Linked DNA regions of Homo sapiens: all the other regions are reported to be linked to region 1. Evidence: microRNA targets listed by miRTarBase, many of them from high-throughput screens and not tested one by one. Region 1 holds a microRNA gene; each other region holds the end of a gene's coding sequence.

Region 1 (3,321 bases):
GCCTGAGGAGGTGAGATGTGTGGCAGGTGGGCTGGGCAGCTGGTGCGCAGCCGCTGAGATGGGGCTTGAAGGGGGCTCGGAGGCAGGGAGACTCACACCCTGTGCTCTTTAGGTCGCTACCTGTGTAGGGAGGAACGGGTACCCCATTCCTCAAGTCATCTGGTACAAGAATGGCCGGCCTCTGAAGGAGGAGAAGAACCGTGAGTAGCCCTTTCTCCCAAAAGCCACCCTTGGGCCAGGTGTGGTAGCTCACACCTGTAATCTCGGTGCTTTGGGAGGCCAAGGCAGGAGGATCTCTGGAGGTGAGGAGTTCAGGACCACCTTGGACAACATAGGGTGACCCTGTCTCTACAGAAAATAAAAAAATTAGCCAGGCATGGTGGTGTGTGCCTGTGGTCCCAGATACTTGGGAGGCTGAGGCAGGAGGATCATATGAGCCCAGGAAATGAAGGCTGCAGTGAGCTAGGATTGCACCACCACACTCCGGCCTGGGTGACAGAGCGAGACCCCATCTCTTAAAAAGAGCTGTCCCTATGGTACTACACAGGAACTGCCTTATATTTTCATTAAGCTTTTAACTTAAAAAAATTATACAAATGGTACTTGAAAATATTTTCATGAGAATTTAAACTGACAAAAAATCTAGAAGTTTCTTCTTGCCTGAGACCCCCCCTCCCAGAAATAATCTCTGCTATCAGGGTGTGTTCTTTCAAGCCTATTTCTATGTATTTGCTCATATATAGAAATATTTCTAGAATGATATAGGCTTCTGTGTTTTATTATCTAAATCAGTCATTCTTAACCAGGGGTGATTTTGTACCCCCTCCTCCTAGGAGATACTTGGCAATGTCTGGAGATATTTTTGGTTGTCACACATAGAGGGGGTGCTACTGCCATCTAGTAGGTAGAGAGACCAAGGATGTTGCTAACATCCTATAGGGCACAGGACAGCCCCCACAATAAAGAATCAACGTGGCCTAAAACATCAGTAGTGCTGGCTGGGCTCACGCCTGTAATCCCAGCACTTTTGGAGGCCAAGGTGGGCGGATCACCTGAGGTCGGGAGTTCAAGACCAGCCTGTCCAACACGGAGAAACCCCATCTCTACTGAAAATACAAAAGTAGCCGGGCGTGGTGGCGCATGTCTGTAATCCCAGCTACTCAGGAGGCTGAGGCAGGAGAATCACTTGAAGCCGGGAGGGAGGTGGAGGTTGCGGTGAGCCGAGATTGTACCACTGCACTCCAGCCTGGGCAACAAGAGTGAAACTCTGTCTGAAAAAAAAAAAAAAAAAATTATCAGTAGTGCTGAGAAACCCTGGTCTAAGTGGTGGTGTATGGTATACATTGTTAGACAATTTCTTTTATACAATGTTTCTGGGTCAGTCTATTTAGATCAACTGATCGTTTTGCTTACTGCCAAGTTTTCCATACTACGCATAGCAGGTAGTCGAGTTCACCATTCCCCATTTAGTGGACATCTAGACGGCTGCTCGTTTTTATCATTGCAGCATTCTTTGCACACATCCTTGGATATGAGCAGACATGAAAATGTTTTTCTAGGGTTGACACTGAGCAGTAAAAGTGCTGGGTTGAAGGGTTTCCAGCTTGCATTTGTACCTGGCCTTCTACAGGGGACAGGGGGCTATTTAGATGGTCCCCTGCCAACCCCAGTGGACAACCCTAGGGTGGGGCTGGAGGTGGGGCTGAGGCTGAGTCTTCCTCCCCTTCCTCCCTGCCCAGGGGTCCACATTCAGTCGTCCCAGACTGTGGAGTCGAGTGGTTTGTACACCTTGCAGAGTATTCTGAAGGCACAGCTGGTTAAAGAAGACAAAGATGCCCAGTTTTACTGTGAGCTCAACTACCGGCTGCCCAGTGGGAACCACATGAAGGAGTCCAGGGAAGTCACCGTCCCTGTTTTCTGTGAGTACTAACCTGACTCTCTGCTTACTGGGGCTGGGGCTGCTGGAAACTCCTGCTGGCTCCCCCTTATCCAGCCCAGGGTTGACTCATGGGCCAAGAGCTACCCCCTTTGCCTATGCAGACCCGACAGAAAAAGTGTGGCTGGAAGTGGAGCCCGTGGGAATGCTGAAGGAAGGGGACCGCGTGGAAATCAGGTGTTTGGCTGATGGCAACCCTCCACCACACTTCAGCATCAGCAAGCAGGTGTGGGGGCTTTGTGCTGGGTGCAGGTGGGGATGCAAGCAGAGACCCAGGTGGAGTGGCGGGAGGTGCACTCTGCTCACCTCCCCAATCCTCCCTAGAACCCCAGCACCAGGGAGGCAGAGGAAGAGACAACCAACGACAACGGGGTCCTGGTGCTGGAGCCTGCCCGGAAGGAACACAGTGGGCGCTATGAATGTCAGGGCCTGGACTTGGACACCATGATATCGCTGCTGAGTGAACCACAGGAACTACTGGTGAACTGTGAGGGGCTGGGGACCCAGGACAGGGGGACCAGGCTGGGGCAATAGGGAACTGGCCCCACCCTGCCCTGGGTGACATGATTGCTGTACCCCCAGATGTGTCTGACGTCCGAGTGAGTCCCGCAGCCCCTGAGAGACAGGAAGGCAGCAGCCTCACCCTGACCTGTGAGGCAGAGAGTAGCCAGGACCTCGAGTTCCAGTGGCTGAGAGAAGAGGTACCCAGGCGGGTCTGGGGCAAGGGGCTGATGGGGTGGGTGGGGCTGGCGGTGACAAGAATGTGCTCTTTCCCAGACCCTCTGACCCATCTCTCATCCCAGACAGGCCAGGTGCTGGAAAGGGGGCCTGTGCTTCAGTTGCATGACCTGAAACGGGAGGCAGGAGGCGGCTATCGCTGCGTGGCGTCTGTGCCCAGCATACCCGGCCTGAACCGCACACAGCTGGTCAACGTGGCCATTTTTGGTGAGGCCCTCCCTCTGGGTAGAGACCAGGTCACCCCAAGTGGGGTGGTTTTTAAGCTCTTTGACAAAAAGCCACCTGCTGCCCTGGGGAGCTCTGGTGCGGAGGGGGAGGCAGGCTAGCTGGGCTTGCCACCTCACCTCTCCCTACCTCCCCAAGGCCCCCCTTGGATGGCATTCAAGGAGAGGAAGGTGTGGGTGAAAGAGAATATGGTGTTGAATCTGTCTTGTGAAGCGTCAGGGCACCCCCGGCCCACCATCTCCTGGAACGTCAACGGCACGGTGAGCGGGTGTCTCATCTGCCACACTCTCCTAATCCCTGCCTGCGCTTTGTGGCCAGGACCAGAGATCCTCCCCATCCCCTGAGCTGCCTCCTTCCTTTCCTCGCAGGCAAGTGAACAAGACCAAGATCCACAGCGAGTCCTGAGCACCCTGAATGTCCTC
Region 2 (3,321 bases), not on the chromosome of region 1:
GTGGCAAATACTGTATTAGCATCTATAGATTTAGGGCAATCTTTAAGAAAAAATGGAATGGTCAGAGTCTAAGTTATTTCATCACTGTACTTTGGTTAATGTGAACTATGATTCATATATTTTATCCTTTCAAACTGAAATTACCTGCTAGAGTGAGCAACCATCTCACCACTGTGGCTCTTTAGCTTTTCCCATATGTAATCTAGAGGTACTGGAATAATAAGAACACAAAATCATAATGAAGGCTGCCAAAGATTATAATTTTTTATTAAGATCTCGAGTAACTCCCTGTAAGCTCACTGTGGTAAATAGATTTGGTTCTAATACCACAATTCCTCAAAGCTCTATGTTCTTAACGGTGCTGTCTTAATAGAAATAAAATGTAAACCATGTGTGATTTTATCTTTTCTAGTAAGCACATTTAAAAATAATTGGAAACAGATGATTCTTTTTTTTGAGACAGAGTCTCACTCTGTCGCCCAGGCTGGAGTGCAGTGGCACAATCTCAGCTCACTGCAGCCTCCTCCTCCTGGGTTCAAGCAATTCTCCTGCCTCAGCCTCCCAAGTAGCTGGGACTACAGGTGCGCACCACCATGCCTGGCTAATTTTTGTATTTTTAGTAGGCAGGGTTTTGCCACACTGGCCAGGCTGGTCTCGAACTCCTGACCTCAGGTGACCTGCCCACCCTGGCCTCTCAAAGTGCTGGGATTAGAGGCGTGAGCCACTGCGCCTGGCCAAGATTCATTTTAATTGTGTATTTTTCTTTAACCCAATATTTCCAATGTTAACATTTCAACATGTAATCAATACAAAAAATTAGGAGATATTTAACCTTTTATTGTCCTTTAGAGCACATCTCAATTTGGACTAACCATATTTCAAATGCTCAACAGCTACATATGGGTAGTGGCTACTGCACTGGACATCGAAGTTCTAGAACTCTCTCTTACAAATGAACACTATCACTGTCGTTGAAAACTTTCTTGAGATAGTTTATTTTATACAAACAAACTGTATTTCTTATTATTCCTGAAATATCTCATATTGGCATCCTGCCATTTCATTGTAGTGCCTATCATTTTTCCATTGATACTGATAAAGTTGCCTAAGACACAACTTCCTACATAGAGGAAATAAGAGGAACAAACCCCTTTTGGACAGAATCTATTAAAACTCATTCCACTATCCCTATGTACATAAATAACATTGCCTCTGCTGAGTGGAATTTGCATTCGTTACTTCAAAATTCAGACTCATCTACCTTTCCAAGTTAGACAGTTGGGGAAAGAACTTCCTAAATCTTAAGGTTGAAGGCAGAGGGCTCAACCCCACTCCAGATTCAGGCAAGGGGAATAGGAAAGAAAGTGCGAGATAAGAGCATGGTGGCCTCTTGGGGTCCCTTGATGGGGGCTGTTGGGAAGTGGAAGGCATTCTTTTAAGGGGATAAGAAGCAAATGGAAGACTTGCTCCAACTCTAGAGTTTTCAGAGAGTTAGAGGAGGTGGAGAGATTTACTCCTGCCATGGATCATATGCATTTCTACCATCAACTCCTGGTTTTGCAGTATTTTTATAAATGGAGTTTGGACCTTGGTGACACTCAGCCTCTCTTCCCCTTTTCCTATGTTGCTCAATCTTCCTTTCCCTCCTAGGTTCTTACACATTTCAAACCCTTGCCAATAACAGTATTTTAGTTATCAGGTCTCACCATTCCCTCTGGTTGTTGAGCCTTTGGATAAAAATCCACATGGCTATGGAGTGGGTTTTGTTGGAAAAAGTGACCGTCCTCTAACTGCACCTCTATTTCTGGCTCCTCAAACAGCAAAGGGTAATAATAAGGCATGGTAGAGGTTTTCCCATTTTTCAGTGACTAGACTGTGAATATTTACAGATGAATTTTCTATTATTAATGTTATTGTGGTTGTTTTAAAATAAAAGTTCTGAATGTATATATGACCAAAACAAACAAACAAAAAGAGCACAGTGAACTCAAATCATATTCCATTACAATAGTCCCAGGACTTCATTAGACAGACTCCCAGTAATTAAGCCTCCAATCTTAAAATGTTAAACATTTCAACATGTATTGACTAATTCCTGTAAAATACAGAAAGTGCAACATCACCAAACGTGCATTTCCCAGGATTCATTTTAGAATTCTCATGAAAATTTAATAATAGTATTTCAGTTAATTATGGCATTTGAGAAAAAGATACTAATGGGGAAAGATCACATACATGCTTTGGGTGATACGTTAAAAAAACCTACAATAATTAGTAGTATTGCCTTAACATTTCTAAAATCACATAAAAATGATCATCTTTGATTGCCATTTCAGTAATTTTGAATACAGGGTATGTTATTTTCTGCTCACTAGTAATCAAAACACATAAAACAGACTTGTAACAAATATTCAGAGTCGATTATTTTCATAAGCTAAACAGTTCCGATACTTTAAGATTTGTGTTTGAGCATACAGTACTGCAATGTTGGCTACATAAAATAAAAAAATCTTTTTAAGAGGAAGCTCAATAATCAGAGGCTGTATTGCATTTAAGGATTTAACACTGGCTATATACAAAAGGGAAAGCATTTCAATGAGAAATACTTCACGTTACCAAGTTCTCTCCTTTAATATGGCAACATTCAGCAGCTTATGCTACTCTTTTATCCTTTGGTTCCCAGTGACAAACAATGCAGTAATAATGCCTCTGGTTTTAGTTCCTCTTGGATGACATTTATTAGCAGAGAGAGAGACCTGATGCTTTAGCTGAAATTTGGCAGCCCAAGAAGTGCACCAACTGCTCCAAAGTAACCCTGTGTAATTTAAAAATAACTGTTATGTAGTACAGCTTTTAAGTTAGCATATAATATTAACCACTTGAGAACACACAACTATGCACAATCTATTTGTTTAATAATATTTGGAAACCTACCAATTTCTGCGTTGTTAGCTATTATAAAAAATTTTCTGAATCTGTATTCTTGATGTCTACACACCTTTGAAATATGTATTTTTATTTATTATTATTATTTTTAGAGACATGGTCTCACTATTTTGCCCAGGCTGGCCTTGAATTCCTGGGCTCACATGGTCCTCCCATCTCAGCCTCTTGAATAGCTGGGACTATAGGCTCACACTGAAATACGTATTCTAAAAGTGTGGCCTTTAGACACTAAAGCTTCCAGGACTGTAACAGCAATTCTGCACCCTCTCCCCTTTACTTAATAAAACAAACTAACTTCCTGTGGCTGTGCCTGACACTCTCACTGCATGCCATGTGGAATTGCACAAGGGCACACCATTCTGATTTGTATTGTGT
Region 3 (3,321 bases), not on the chromosome of region 1:
TGCCTGGGCCCTCACCCAGCCTCCCTCACAGTCTCCTGGCCCTCAGTCTCTCCCCTCCACTCCATCCTCCATCTGGCCTCAGTGGGTCATTCTGATCACTGAACTGACCATACCCAGCCCTGCCCACGGCCCTCCATGGCTCCCCAATGCCCTGGAGAGGGGACATCTAGTCAGAGAGTAGTCCTGAAGAGGTGGCCTCTGCGATGTGCCTGTGGGGGCAGCATCCTGCAGATGGTCCCGGCCCTCATCCTGCTGACCTGTCTGCAGGGACTGTCCTCCTGGACCTTGCCCCTTGTGCAGGAGCTGGACCCTGAAGTCCCCTCCCCATAGGCCAAGACTGGAGCCTTGTTCCCTCTGTTGGACTCCCTGCCCATATTCTTGTGGGAGTGGGTTCTGGAGACATTTCTGTCTGTTCCTGAGAGCTGGGAATTGCTCTCAGTCATCTGCCTGCGCGGTTCTGAGAGATGGAGTTGCCTAGGCAGTTATTGGGGCCAATCTTTCTCACTGTGTCTCTCCTCCTTTACCCTTAGGGTGATTCTGGGGGTCCACTTGTCTGTAATGGTGTGCTTCAAGGTATCACATCATGGGGCCCTGAGCCATGTGCCCTGCCTGAAAAGCCTGCTGTGTACACCAAGGTGGTGCATTACCGGAAGTGGATCAAGGACACCATCGCAGCCAACCCCTGAGTGCCCCTGTCCCACCCCTACCTCTAGTAAATTTAAGTCCACCTCACGTTCTGGCATCACTTGGCCTTTCTGGATGCTGGACACCTGAAGCTTGGAACTCACCTGGCCGAAGCTCGAGCCTCCTGAGTCCTACTGACCTGTGCTTTCTGGTGTGGAGTCCAGGGCTGCTAGGAAAAGGAATGGGCAGACACAGGTGTATGCCAATGTTTCTGAAATGGGTATAATTTCGTCCTCTCCTTCGGAACACTGGCTGTCTCTGAAGACTTCTCGCTCAGTTTCAGTGAGGACACACACAAAGACGTGGGTGACCATGTTGTTTGTGGGGTGCAGAGATGGGAGGGGTGGGGCCCACCCTGGAAGAGTGGACAGTGACACAAGGTGGACACTCTCTACAGATCACTGAGGATAAGCTGGAGCCACAATGCATGAGGCACACACACAGCAAGGATGACGCTGTAAACATAGCCCACGCTGTCCTGGGGGCACTGGGAAGCCTAGATAAGGCCGTGAGCAGAAAGAAGGGGAGGATCCTCCTATGTTGTTGAAGGAGGGACTAGGGGGAGAAACTGAAAGCTGATTAATTACAGGAGGTTTGTTCAGGTCCCCCAAACCACCGTCAGATTTGATGATTTCCTAGCAGGACTTACAGAAATAAAGAGCTATCATGCTGTGGTTTATTATGGTTTGTTACATTGATAGGATACATACTGAAATCAGCAAACAAAACAGATGTATAGATTAGAGTGTGGAGAAAACAGAGGAAAACTTGCAGTTACGAAGACTGGCAACTTGGCTTTACTAAGTTTTCAGACTGGCAGGAAGTCAAACCTATTAGGCTGAGGACCTTGTGGAGTGTAGCTGATCCAGCTGATAGAGGAACTAGCCAGGTGGGGGCCTTTCCCTTTGGATGGGGGGCATATCTGACAGTTATTCTCTCCAAGTGGAGACTTACGGACAGCATATAATTCTCCCTGCAAGGATGTATGATAATATGTACAAAGTAATTCCAACTGAGGAAGCTCACCTGATCCTTAGTGTCCAGGGTTTTTACTGGGGGTCTGTAGGACGAGTATGGAGTACTTGAATAATTGACCTGAAGTCCTCAGACCTGAGGTTCCCTAGAGTTCAAACAGATACAGCATGGTCCAGAGTCCCAGATGTACAAAAACAGGGATTCATCACAAATCCCATCTTTAGCATGAAGGGTCTGGCATGGCCCAAGGCCCCAAGTATATCAAGGCACTTGGGCAGAACATGCCAAGGAATCAAATGTCATCTCCCAGGAGTTATTCAAGGGTGAGCCCTTTACTTGGGATGTACAGGCTTTGAGCAGTGCAGGGCTGCTGAGTCAACCTTTTATTGTACAGGGGATGAGGGAAAGGGAGAGGATGAGGAAGCCCCCCTGGGGATTTGGTTTGGTCTTGTGATCAGGTGGTCTATGGGGCTATCCCTACAAAGAAGAATCCAGAAATAGGGGCACATTGAGGAATGATACTGAGCCCAAAGAGCATTCAATCATTGTTTTATTTGCCTTCTTTTCACACCATTGGTGAGGGAGGGATTACCACCCTGGGGTTATGAAGATGGTTGAACACCCCACACATAGCACCGGAGATATGAGATCAACAGTTTCTTAGCCATAGAGATTCACAGCCCAGAGCAGGAGGACGCTGCACACCATGCAGGATGACATGGGGGATGCGCTCGGGATTGGTGTGAAGAAGCAAGGACTGTTAGAGGCAGGCTTTATAGTAACAAGACGGTGGGGCAAACTCTGATTTCCGTGGGGGAATGTCATGGTCTTGCTTTACTAAGTTTTGAGACTGGCAGGTAGTGAAACTCATTAGGCTGAGAACCTTGTGGAATGCAGCTGACCCAGCTGATAGAGGAAGTAGCCAGGTGGGAGCCTTTCCCAGTGGGTGTGGGACATATCTGGCAAGATTTTGTGGCACTCCTGGTTACAGATACTGGGGCAGCAAATAAAACTGAATCTTGTTTTCAGACCTTATACTGTGTAATTGTAAGTGGACATTTAGTAATGTACAGGGGGTCAGGGAAAGACGGGGGATAGTGAATGCACCTGTGGGACTGGTTTGGTTTTGTGATTGAGTAACCCATGGAGTTATCTCTGCAATGATGAATTGTTTGAAAGAAACCTGATTGATTTTATACTGAATTAGAAGTTAATAAGCATGCTGAAAAATAAGAGAACATATTAGGAATATTGAGCAAGACTAACATACATAAAATATGAGAAAAAGGTAGGAAATATTAGGTGGGAAAAATATGATAATTGGAAAAAGTAAAAAAAATGGATTAATAGAATTGAGTAGAGGTGAAGAACGCAATAGTGACATTTTAGACTAGATTGAAGAAAAATGTCAAAGAAATACTGAATGATGTGAGTGCTGGCAGTGCAGATACTGAACACTAAAGACTCAGGAAGAGAGAAAAATAGGAAAGGAGGAAACACATGACTAAACACTGAAGGCAGGTTTTTTTTTTTTTTTTTTTTTTCGCAGAGTTTCACTCTTATCGCCCAGGCTGGAGTGCAATGGCTCAGTCTCGGCTCACTGCAACCCCTGCCTCCCAGTTCAAGTGATTCTCCTGCTTCAGCCTCCCCAGTAGCTGGGAT
Region 4 (3,321 bases), not on the chromosome of region 1:
ACGTCTCATTTTACAGAAGGGGAAGCTGAGGTTCAGAGCTGTGGAGTATCTTGCTAATTCCTCCCAGCTTGTGACGAGCAGAGCAAGAGCTGGAACTTGAATCTGAATCACATGGCCAAGGCTAGGATTCCAGGCTCCTGGCGCCTAACAAGTTAAAGAAAATACATTCTCCCCTAGGGCTGGGAATGATGAGAAAGGCTTATGGAAAATCTGTATCTGGGCTGGGCACAGTGACTCACACCTGTGATCCCAGCACTTTGGGGAGGGTGAGGTGGGTGGATCACCTGAGGTCAGGAGTTCAAGACCAGCCTGGCCAACATGGGGCAACCCTGTCTCTACTAAAAATACAAAAATTAACTGGGCATGTTGGCGGGTGCCTGTAATCCCAGCTACTCAGGAGGCCGAGGCAGGAGAATTGCTTGAACCTGGGAGGTGGAGGTTGCGGTGAGCTGAGATTACACCACTGCACTCCAGCCTGGGTGACAGAGCGAGACTCTGTCTCAAAAAAATTAAAATAAAATAAGAAAAAAGAAAATCTTCATCTGCAAATAGGTAGTTGTAATTTTCGCTCTTTCTAAATCCAGCTACCTTCTTTGTCCTTCACAGATGACCAGGATGCAGAGGTACTGTCGGGTGAGCCCAGCCAGCCATCGTCTCAGGAGCAGTCCGACTAGGCCCCAGGCCCGCCCTCCTGGCCAGCAGAGTGGGGCACTGGGGGGCAACAGCAACAGTTTTCTTGTCTTCATTCAGTGATATGTAGGGAGGAAGGAGGTTGATAGCATAGATGGCAACTGATTCCCAGTTTAAGATAGGAGGAAGGAGAGCAATTTCTAAGTTTCAATCCTGCGCTGTACAGTTGAAGAAGAGTGTGGAGGAAGCTATTACCAGGGGAGGGCCAGGGCTCTGAGGAGTGGGCGCTGGGAGAAGCTCCCATTTAGGAATGAATTTAACTGTCCTTGGGTTACACTACCATTTATTGGAACAAGCCCCAGAGGCAGTATTTGATTTCCTCAGGCCCCACTCTAGGACAGGAGGCACCATCTATTTCAGCCTTCTGCTGCCTTTGCCTGGTCCTCCAGGTTGCTGGGGGCACCACAGACATCAAGATTCCAGTTCATCCAGGTGGCTGGAGCCAGCAGCCAGGACCAGGGTCGTTGACAGCAGGTTCTGCAGCATCCTGCCTTGCTGCTCTGTCCCCCACATCTTCCTGGCCACAGCCCCTTGCCCCTCCTCTAAGGGGTTTTACTAGCAAGCATCCTGGCTGCTGGGGCTACTTCATTCCCCCTCCATAAAGTTTCAGCCATTATGGGCACTGGTTTTAAAAAATTTATTAGTTTGACTATTTGATGTTTTTATAGTGATTGCCAACTTTAAAAAGTAGGCTGTTCATAAGCACTGATGCAGTCCCTAGGGAATAGAATGGTGCTTCTGATCACCTGTGACATGAACAGTTTCTTCTGTGAGGACAGTTGGCTATTGAAATAAAATGAGCAATGGAAATCCTTGTGGAAGGCTTATTCTCCCTTTGATCCTGGTGGAAGGTAGGGTTGGCAGGAGCCTGAGTTGGGGAGATTGGGGGCCTTGGTTTGTGGCCTGTGGCTGGCCTTGTCTGCACTTGCTTAGTTCCTATTTTTAGTTCCTGCCCTCCCTGTTCTACCTCCCCTTTCTTTATCAAGTGAGGGGATTGGGCCAGGCTAGTAGACTTCTTTATTATTACTGTTGTTATTTTAAGCAATGGAGACCTTTTAAGGAAATCTGATGTAGACACACAAAATGTAAAGATGTCTTAGTTTCCTTCCTCCAGCTCCTTCCATAGTCCCTGCATAGGAACATGCATTTAAAAAAACAGAACTTGAACCAATTCTGTTTTAGGGTCCTCGGCTTCTTCCATTGGTTGCATTTATACCTTCATTTAGAAAACATCCTGTGTTTCTACTAGATTCAGAACTTGACAGTTCCCAGCTCTGCCCATGAGGAACATGACATCTAGTGGGAGAGACAGAGAGTCTTAGGGGATTCATACTAGAACAGAGAGGTAGGGAGGCTGTGGGAGTGGTCAGAGAAAGCCTTCTGCAGGAGTCAGGGCCTCAACCACAACATAAGGGGCAATAATGAGTTAGGCAGAGAAGAAAGAGATGAGTACTCCCAGTAAGGATGCAGAGGAGGATGGGGACCTGGTGTGAAGGATTCCATGGTCAGGGCAGTGTCCTGTTCTCTGTCCAGGGAAGGGCTGGCACCCAAGAGAACAGGTCAACTTTACTTCCTTTTTTGCCTGTGGGCAGAGGTGTCCAGGCATCCTCCTAAGTCCTGGGATAGGTAGTGGGGGGATCATTGAGAAGTGATACCCTAACTATTCTCTTACGTCAGTGTGGTGGCTGGGGCCTAGGGCCTGGGCTTTGTTGGAAGGCACTGGAGGCAGGCACTGTCACAAGAACTTTTCAGTTACTGCTATACAGACATAAGAGTGTTTTCAGCAGGGCAGACCACGCATGCTGAGGCCTGAGGTCTGCAGGTCAGCACTGGTGTCAGCCTGGACAGGATGATGCGGTGATTTGGGACTACCCTGGCTTGGGGGCTGAAGCTATCACTTACCCCAGTGCTGGTCTTCCCCTTGGGGACCACAGTGCTGCAGGACCCTGAGAGGGTGGGAGAAGACATGCCTTTTGGTTGCACTTGACATCAATCACCATGCCCTAACTGAACCCCTGACCTGCCAGTACAGCAGGGTGGGGCTGGATTGGTAACCTTACTTTTTCTTTTTCTTTTTTTCTTTTTTTTTTTTGAGACGGAGTCTCGCCCTGTCGCCCAGGCTGGAGTGCAGTGGTGCGATCTCGGCTCACTGCAAGCTCCGCCTCCCGGATTCACGCCATTCTCCTGCTTCAGCCTCCTGAGTAGCTGGGACTATAGGCGCCCACCACCACGTCCGGCTAATTTTTATTTTATTTATTTATTTTTTTGTATTTTTAGTAGAGACAGGGTTTCACCATGTTAGCCAGGATGGTCTCGATCTCTTGACCTTGTGATCTGCCCGCCTCGGCCTCCGAAAGTGTTGGGATTACAGGCGTGAGCCACCGCACCTGGCTGGTAACCTTACTTTTTCATAACACTTGAAGTTTTATCTTAGACTCCACATTTTGAAAGATTTTCCAACCAAGTTGCACTACTCAAATAAAGCTGCTTTCCTGTTTCTGGTCAGCACACACGCAGAAGTATGAAACAGTCTCTGTGGCCACATGGACACCACAACTATTCCAGACCAATGCAAGGAAATGGGTTGTTTAGTTAGCCTGTGGGGAGATAGGAGGCTTTGGTCTTTGGAGA
Region 5 (3,000 bases), not on the chromosome of region 1:
ATCTGCCCCATGGGGTAGGGCCGGGGCAATGGCCTCATCCTGCAGGAATGGCCCCAGCCTTGACACTGGAGTAGAGTCCTTGGCATTCACAGCAGCTGGCCTCGTGTGCCATCCATTAAGTGCAAGATGGCTGGGCCCCCGCCCTCCCTGCACAATGTGCCCAGAGTGCGTCATTTATATCTCCTCCTTGTAGGCGGATATGGGAAGACCCAGTTAGCGTTGATCTCTCATTTCAAACCATTCTGTTTGCTTCTCTCTCTCTGCCCCTCCAGACTCAGTGACTATCTCTTCACGCTAGCCAGATATGCAGCCATGAAGGAGGGGAATCAAGAGAAAATATACATGAAAAATGACCCATCGGCCGAGTCTGAGGGACTCTGAAATCACAGAAAGTGGGAGCTTGGAGGATCCCTCCATGGCGATGGCCGTGGAGAGAGGAGCTTGCCCTTCTGGGGTCCTGGTTCCTGAAGAGCTCACCCAGAGAGGCTCAAAGCAGCCTTTTGTCCCAGCTCAGCTTTGATCTACACCTCTTGCCACCTTCCTCAAGGGACTGTGACCCTTTGGGGATTCTGTCCCTGACCCTGCTTCCCCAAGCTCTCCTGGGTCTTGGAGGGATGTGGGAATGAATTGGCATTGCAGGAAAGACAGGTAAAGTGATTGCTGCAATGAGAAGGAGCTGTGCGGAAAAGGAATAAAAGTTGGAAAGGCTGGAGCCGTGTGTGTGTGTGTGTGTGTGTGTGTGTGTGTGTGTGTGTGTGTGAGAGAGAGCCCTCCCACTGCCAGCTCAGGTTGTTCACAGATTTGGAATGGGACCAGAGGCCCTTGAAAATGTAATTGTGATTTACCTGTGCCAAAGGTGCTTTAAATGTCACATTTGTAAAGGGGAAGGCGGACAAGATTTGGAAGTTTAGTCACCTCTGAGCCACCCATCACCGCCAAAGTGTGGGGGAAGGATAGCTGCAGATTGACAGGCGAGGCTCAGAAACTCCTGGCTTAGATTGAAGTGTGTGTGATGGGGGTGCAGCTTAGAGGACCCCCTCTGAAAGGGATGGAGATGCTGATGAGAACAACACTACCACTTGAAGGTGAACATTCCCTGTCTGGTTGGACTGAGTCAAGGGTCTGCGGTGCAGCATCTTCAGCTTGAGAAAATGAGGTTGTCAGTTTCCAGCAAGGCTGACATCCACCAGACTGATTTCTCCGATGTTGCACTTGGCTGGCTTATGCCTCTGAGATCGGTGCCACGGCTGTATTTATTTCAGTTGTCACTGCTGCTCCCTCCTGCTATGAAACGACACTGCCAGTGCCAGCAGTGTCCTTGGGAAAGGCAATATTTATGAAGGGCAGAAGAGGCAGCCCCAAGAACCTAAAGACTGCAGGCTGCTAATTGCAGGAAATGACTTTGGAAGGGCAGGCTCTTGTCCAGTTTCAGGGCTGAAATGCCTGGCGAACTCCATTCAGCCATCACATATTGACTGAGTGGCTGCTTAGCATGGGCCACCGCGCTAGGCTCGGGACAGCTGGTCTTTCCGGCCATCTTTCTTGCTGGCAAGTCAGCAAACATTACCTTCTTAGTCACGTGCATATTTTTGCCTTCATTCTTACCACCTGGCCTGCAAAGTTTGCAGGAGGGCCAGGTATATTCACTTGTGTCTTCTGGGTCCTTTCATTGCTGACAGGCTGTGATGGCCCTCTTGAGCCTTGGGCAGGGTGGGTGAGGTGCAGATGACCAGGAGTGTGTGAATGCCTTCCAGGAGGTGGCTTTGTTCCGTGCCTCCCTGCCCCCATCGTCACTACCAGGTCTGGTACGGAGTCGGTGCTCAGTGTTTGCAAAACAGAGCTGAAAACGGACTTTGGGAGGCCGAGGCAGGCAGATCACCTGAGGTCAGGAGTTTGAGACCAGCCTGGTCAACATGGTAAAACCCCATTTCTGCTAAAAAAAAAAAAAAAAAAAAAAAATTAGCTGGGCATGGTGGCGGGTGCCTGTAATCCCAGCTATTCAGGAGGCTGAGGCAGGAGAATCACTTGAACCTACGAGGCAGAGGCTGCAGTGAGCCAAGATCGTGACACGACACTCCAGCCTGGCTGATAGAGTGAGACTCCGTCACAAAAAAAAAAAAAAAAAAAAAAAAACCCTGAAAACGCAATCACTAAGGCTCGGTCAGGGAGTATGTTCAAAGAGCTTGCAGCGAATCACTCAATTCTGTCTACACCTCAAAATCTCAAAATCTTCCTGGAATATATATATATATATAAAATAACACAGCAGCCCTGCATGCCTAGCCATGGGAAAGCACAGCCTCCAAAGGATAAGGAAAGCTTTTTGAGTAAATACAACATCCTAAAGTGACAATCTTTGAAACAAGGCCGTTCACCTGTTGCCAAGTCCTGTCCTTCCAGGACCGGGTGTCACAGCCTGGATGTTAACAGTCGCGTTCTCAGACCCCCGCCTCTGTATCTGTCTCCCGGTTCACCAGCAAACACTTCTCTGAGAAACCACCTGGGTGCAGGGCAGATGCCACCACTCAGCAGGTGTTTCTCTCCTGTGCTACCAACCTGGGAAAAATGGAGAAAGCTTGCTTTGGGGGCTGGAAGGATGGGGTGTTTAAAACATTTGCTCTTCTGCAGTGCCTTTCAAAAGCTCTATCAAGAGCCCGAGGCAAAAGAAAAGATGTGTACCCCTCTGTACACTGAGCAAATGTCCTCCCATATTTTGAACCAGGTGGGAAAAGTTAATGAAAGCCCTACAGTCAGGAAATGTGACTGCGAAGCCCCCGCTGCCCCAGTGTTTGCACACCACTGGCAACTCTCAGAAACAATCAGTCCCATTGCACGGGAACACGGGGTTTTGAAACAAACAGCAGCCTGTTTTTATTTAAAGTCGTGATCCCTTGCTTATCGTAGATTTTTTTCATAATTTGATTTTGGAAAATATTGCACACAAATACTACTCGATCCCTGAGTTTGTGGGCACTTCCTTACATTTTGCACCCATGAAAA
Region 6 (3,000 bases), not on the chromosome of region 1:
ATAAGGCACTGTGTTAGGTGCTGTGTTCCTGACCCTACAGATCCCATTCCACCATAGCAAAAGGTAAAAGTGACTCTACAGTGAGCTTGGTAGACATAGACCCATGCTTATATACTCAGGGACACCTGGAAGAGATATAAAAACAGAAACATCTCACATAGGAAGTTTTCAATGCATCGTGATCAGGACTCAAATAATCCCCTTCTCTTTTTCTTCAGTGTACTAAAGGGAGCACATTGTTGAGAAGGACCGGTTGCAAATTTCCAAAAAGGAGAGTAAAATAATTAATGAGTCAAGGTCTCAGGAGAGACAGAAGGTAAGGGGAGTCCTTCAGTAAGTGGGGAAATTGATTTGTTTTGTGTCCTCATCTCTCCAGGGCCATGAGCATGTCCTTTGCTGGCCATAAGTCAATGCTGATGACCTCAGTTATAGTGTAATCTTCAAGGCTAATTTACGCAAAACTTCAGAAATGGTAAACATCCTCATGAAGACTAATGATGACATATTTTAGGAGTGCATAATAGTAGGTATAGAGAAAAAACTGCAGGGTAAAATGTTATTGCTGTTCTTATTGCTAAAGGGCATACTCCTTAAGAACCAAAGTTAATTATCAGTCCTTTGACCTAAGAGGAAAACAAATTTCAGGGACTCCCCTAAAGATTCCTATGTAGTACAAATAAAATGCCAAAATATTTTGGAACACATTTTGGAGCACTGGATAGGTCAATAAAATAATGTGTAAATTGCCAAATGTGATCTAGGAACTCCCTGCAAACATCAGATTAGGCTCTATTCTCTATCTGAATACTGACTTTGCTTTGCTTTGTAACTCCTATCTTCACTAATAATGCCTTTTCCCCCCTCTTGTGTGCATCCTAGCCTATATTCTCTTTCATCATTCTACAGTGGTCAATGTGGTTATTGTACAGCTTCACTTTCAATGAAAGCTGAGGGAAAAGAAGCCTCATACCCTGCCCCCCACCCGCCCCCGCCAATACGTAAAAGAAGCCATTTAAAAAATAAAAGCAGCAAGCTACTAAATTTGACTCATTCAAATCTTGGCAATTAGCATGTATAGTATGTTATGAGAGAGAGAGAGAGAAAATTAGCAGAAATGGAGGAAAACATATTACATCCTAAATACCACCAAATTGCCAAAATACACATTTGGGTAGTAATCTCCAGAGAACTCTCTGGAGGCACAGCATCTATCATGCTGATTTCCCTGAACAATATTACAGAATAGCCCTGTGTACTTTCTCTTGGGGGGGGAGGTGTAAAGAATTATCATATGGAACCTCACAAGTCTCTAAAACCTTTCTGCAATTATCCCTCATAGGATTACCACACTGATGAGTTTGTTCAACAGGCGCTGTTGTGACTTCCTAATTTAACTCCTATAGAGATGATTTGTGTGGAAGATAAAACACTATATTTGAACTCAATTCCCACCTTATCCCTGAGCTTATGCTACCAAGCAATTCTTACAATGTTTGGAGTTCTATTAGACTACAGAGAAGAATCTAGGGTTTCAGCTAAACCCTTTAATCCACAGGCCTAGGTAAAGGACTGTCTCAAGGTAGTCGCTAGCCCATGGGTTCTCAAAGTATGGTCTGAAGACCCCTGGAGGAGTCCCTGAGACCCTTTTCGTGGGTCTGCAGATTAAAAATTATTTTGTATAATAACACCAAGATGAGTTACATTCAATTAGGCATTTTTCTTTTGAAATTAAGCAGACTTTTGGAAACTAAGATGTGCATAGCCCTGTAGTAGGCTAAGTGGAAGTTACAAAGGCAGTAGTAGCTTTTTTTCCCCCTCTCGTTATCTCATGAGGATACAGAGGACTTTTCCAGAGGCTACATGACATATGGTTATGTCATCTCTCTCATAGCTGAGGGATGTGTGCTTCTGTGTTCTTCTTGAGCTTTAAATATTTCTCAGTCTTAATACCTAAAATAATTAGTATCAATAGATAGAACCCACACCCAAGAACTCCTTGGGGCCTTCAATAACTTTTAAGAGTGTTAAGGTGTCCTAAGACCAAACATTTTGCAAATTGTTGCTTTATCAGGATTTTTGTTATTTCTAGAATGCATTTCTTTCTAACTGATCTACTTGGGAAAAAAATCGTTACCTCATGGCAATTATTGCTTTCCTATCAATATGGAGATTATATTTCTGAAGGAGACTGACCAAAATTATATTAAAAGGTTTAAATCAAACAAGTGGATCCATGTTATAACATGAGGAAGAGAGCTGCCCCACTAGATGTCTGACATTAGATAACTCAGAGTCCCGCCTCTCCAACAAGTCTCCCTTACTAGAGAAACGGACAGATTCTGTTTTGTGGGATGGGATAAGGAGACAATCTGAAGTAGAGTTTGACACAATATTATTCTGCCCATATGAAATTCTGGTAGCCAGGGTGCCAGGTGTATTCATAATCCAGATGCTGTCAATTTTAAGCCTGAAGCCCCAAGAGGCGAGCAGTGTTTAATACATCATCTCTTGTTAAATAGCAGCCACACAGTTGGCGGTAGCCAGTGAAGCATTCCCTGCCATGTAGGACACGCCAGTTGTCTATAAATAGGACCTGTGAATGGGCCAAAAAAAAAAAAAAAAGAGAGAGAAAACACTGTCAGAAGAAGGACAGACCAAAGGAACCCTAAGTCAGAAGAGATCATTTAAAAGATAACCTTTAGGTTGTTTTCTGGTTGCATTAAATGAGATATTTTTCTTTTGAAATTAAACAAACTTTTGGAAACTAAGATGTGTATAGCCCTGTAGTAGGCTAAATGGAAGTTACAGAGGCAACAGTAGGTAATGGGCCCTGCACTGGAGGAGCTTCTGTTTCTCAAGTAATTGTTCTCTTATCAAAGTAAATCAGATAATTGGTTTGTTTCTTTTTCTTTTTCTTTAATTCTTATTCTACCCTTTCTCAAAGGGTTAAATTATCTCATGACATTTTATGCTAAGCTGAAGGTATTTTTCATCCAGAGG

The links. Region 1 holds the annotated microRNA hsa-miR-6756-3p (UCCCCUUCCUCCCUGCCCAG, at 1,720-1,739, shown strand). A microRNA usually pairs through its seed, bases 2 to 8, with sites in the 3' UTR of a target mRNA and lowers its output. Matches are read on the target gene's strand: a 7mer-m8 pairs with bases 2 to 8, a 7mer-A1 pairs with bases 2 to 7 and ends in A, and an 8mer does both.
Region 2: the mRNA of PANK3 is a reported target of hsa-miR-6756-3p. Seed matches in the 3' UTR shown: 7mer-A1 at 1,610-1,616.
Region 3: miRTarBase lists KLK2 as a target of hsa-miR-6756-3p. Seed matches in the 3' UTR shown: 8mer at 1,204-1,211.
Region 4: miRTarBase lists DMRTB1 as a target of hsa-miR-6756-3p. The part of its 3' UTR that is shown has no 7-base or 8-base seed match.
Region 5: the mRNA of MMAB is a reported target of hsa-miR-6756-3p. Seed matches in the 3' UTR shown: 7mer-A1 at 880-886.
Region 6: miRTarBase lists TMLHE as a target of hsa-miR-6756-3p. Seed matches in the 3' UTR shown: 8mer at 198-205.

What each region holds. Positions count from the first base shown.
Region 1 is chr11:119,311,368-119,314,688 of GRCh38, reverse strand. It overlaps MIR6756 (microRNA 6756), which reads left to right and starts at 1,677; the gene lies at 1,677-1,739. MCAM (melanoma cell adhesion molecule) reads left to right here. Exons shown (of 16, transcript NM_006500.3): 4 at 1-10; 5 at 113-200; 6 at 1,740-1,919; 7 at 2,041-2,162; 8 at 2,261-2,423; 9 at 2,519-2,637; 10 at 2,740-2,881; 11 at 3,038-3,159; 12 at 3,268-3,321.
Region 2 is chr5:168,554,807-168,558,127 of GRCh38, forward strand. It overlaps PANK3 (pantothenate kinase 3), which reads right to left. Exons shown (of 7, transcript NM_024594.4): 7 at 1-2,815. The coding sequence ends at 2,765. Among named protein-coding and RNA genes, the nearest start is that of MIR103B1, 4.4 kb to the right of the region's middle.
Region 3 is chr19:50,877,874-50,881,194 of GRCh38, forward strand. It overlaps KLK2 (kallikrein related peptidase 2), which reads left to right. Exons shown (of 5, transcript NM_005551.5): 5 at 531-2,694. The coding sequence ends at 686. Among named protein-coding and RNA genes, the nearest start is that of KLK2, 6.1 kb to the left of the region's middle.
Region 4 is chr1:53,465,989-53,469,309 of GRCh38, forward strand. It overlaps DMRTB1 (DMRT like family B with proline rich C-terminal 1), which reads left to right. Exons shown (of 4, transcript NM_033067.3): 4 at 607-1,500. The coding sequence ends at 674. Among named protein-coding and RNA genes, the nearest start is that of DMRTB1, 8.2 kb to the left of the region's middle. RefSeq lists an enhancer at 3,176-3,321.
Region 5 is chr12:109,554,409-109,557,408 of GRCh38, reverse strand. MMAB (metabolism of cobalamin associated B) reads left to right here. Exons shown (of 9, transcript NM_052845.4): 9 at 273-3,000. The coding sequence ends at 381. Among named protein-coding and RNA genes, the nearest start is that of MMAB, 18 kb to the left of the region's middle.
Region 6 is chrX:155,489,074-155,492,073 of GRCh38, forward strand. TMLHE (trimethyllysine hydroxylase, epsilon) reads right to left here. Exons shown (of 8, transcript NM_018196.4): 8 at 1-2,593. The coding sequence ends at 2,462. It overlaps TMLHE-AS1 (TMLHE antisense RNA 1), which reads left to right. Exons shown (of 4, transcript NR_039991.1): 3 at 219-316. Among named protein-coding and RNA genes, the nearest start is that of TMLHE-AS1, 24 kb to the left of the region's middle.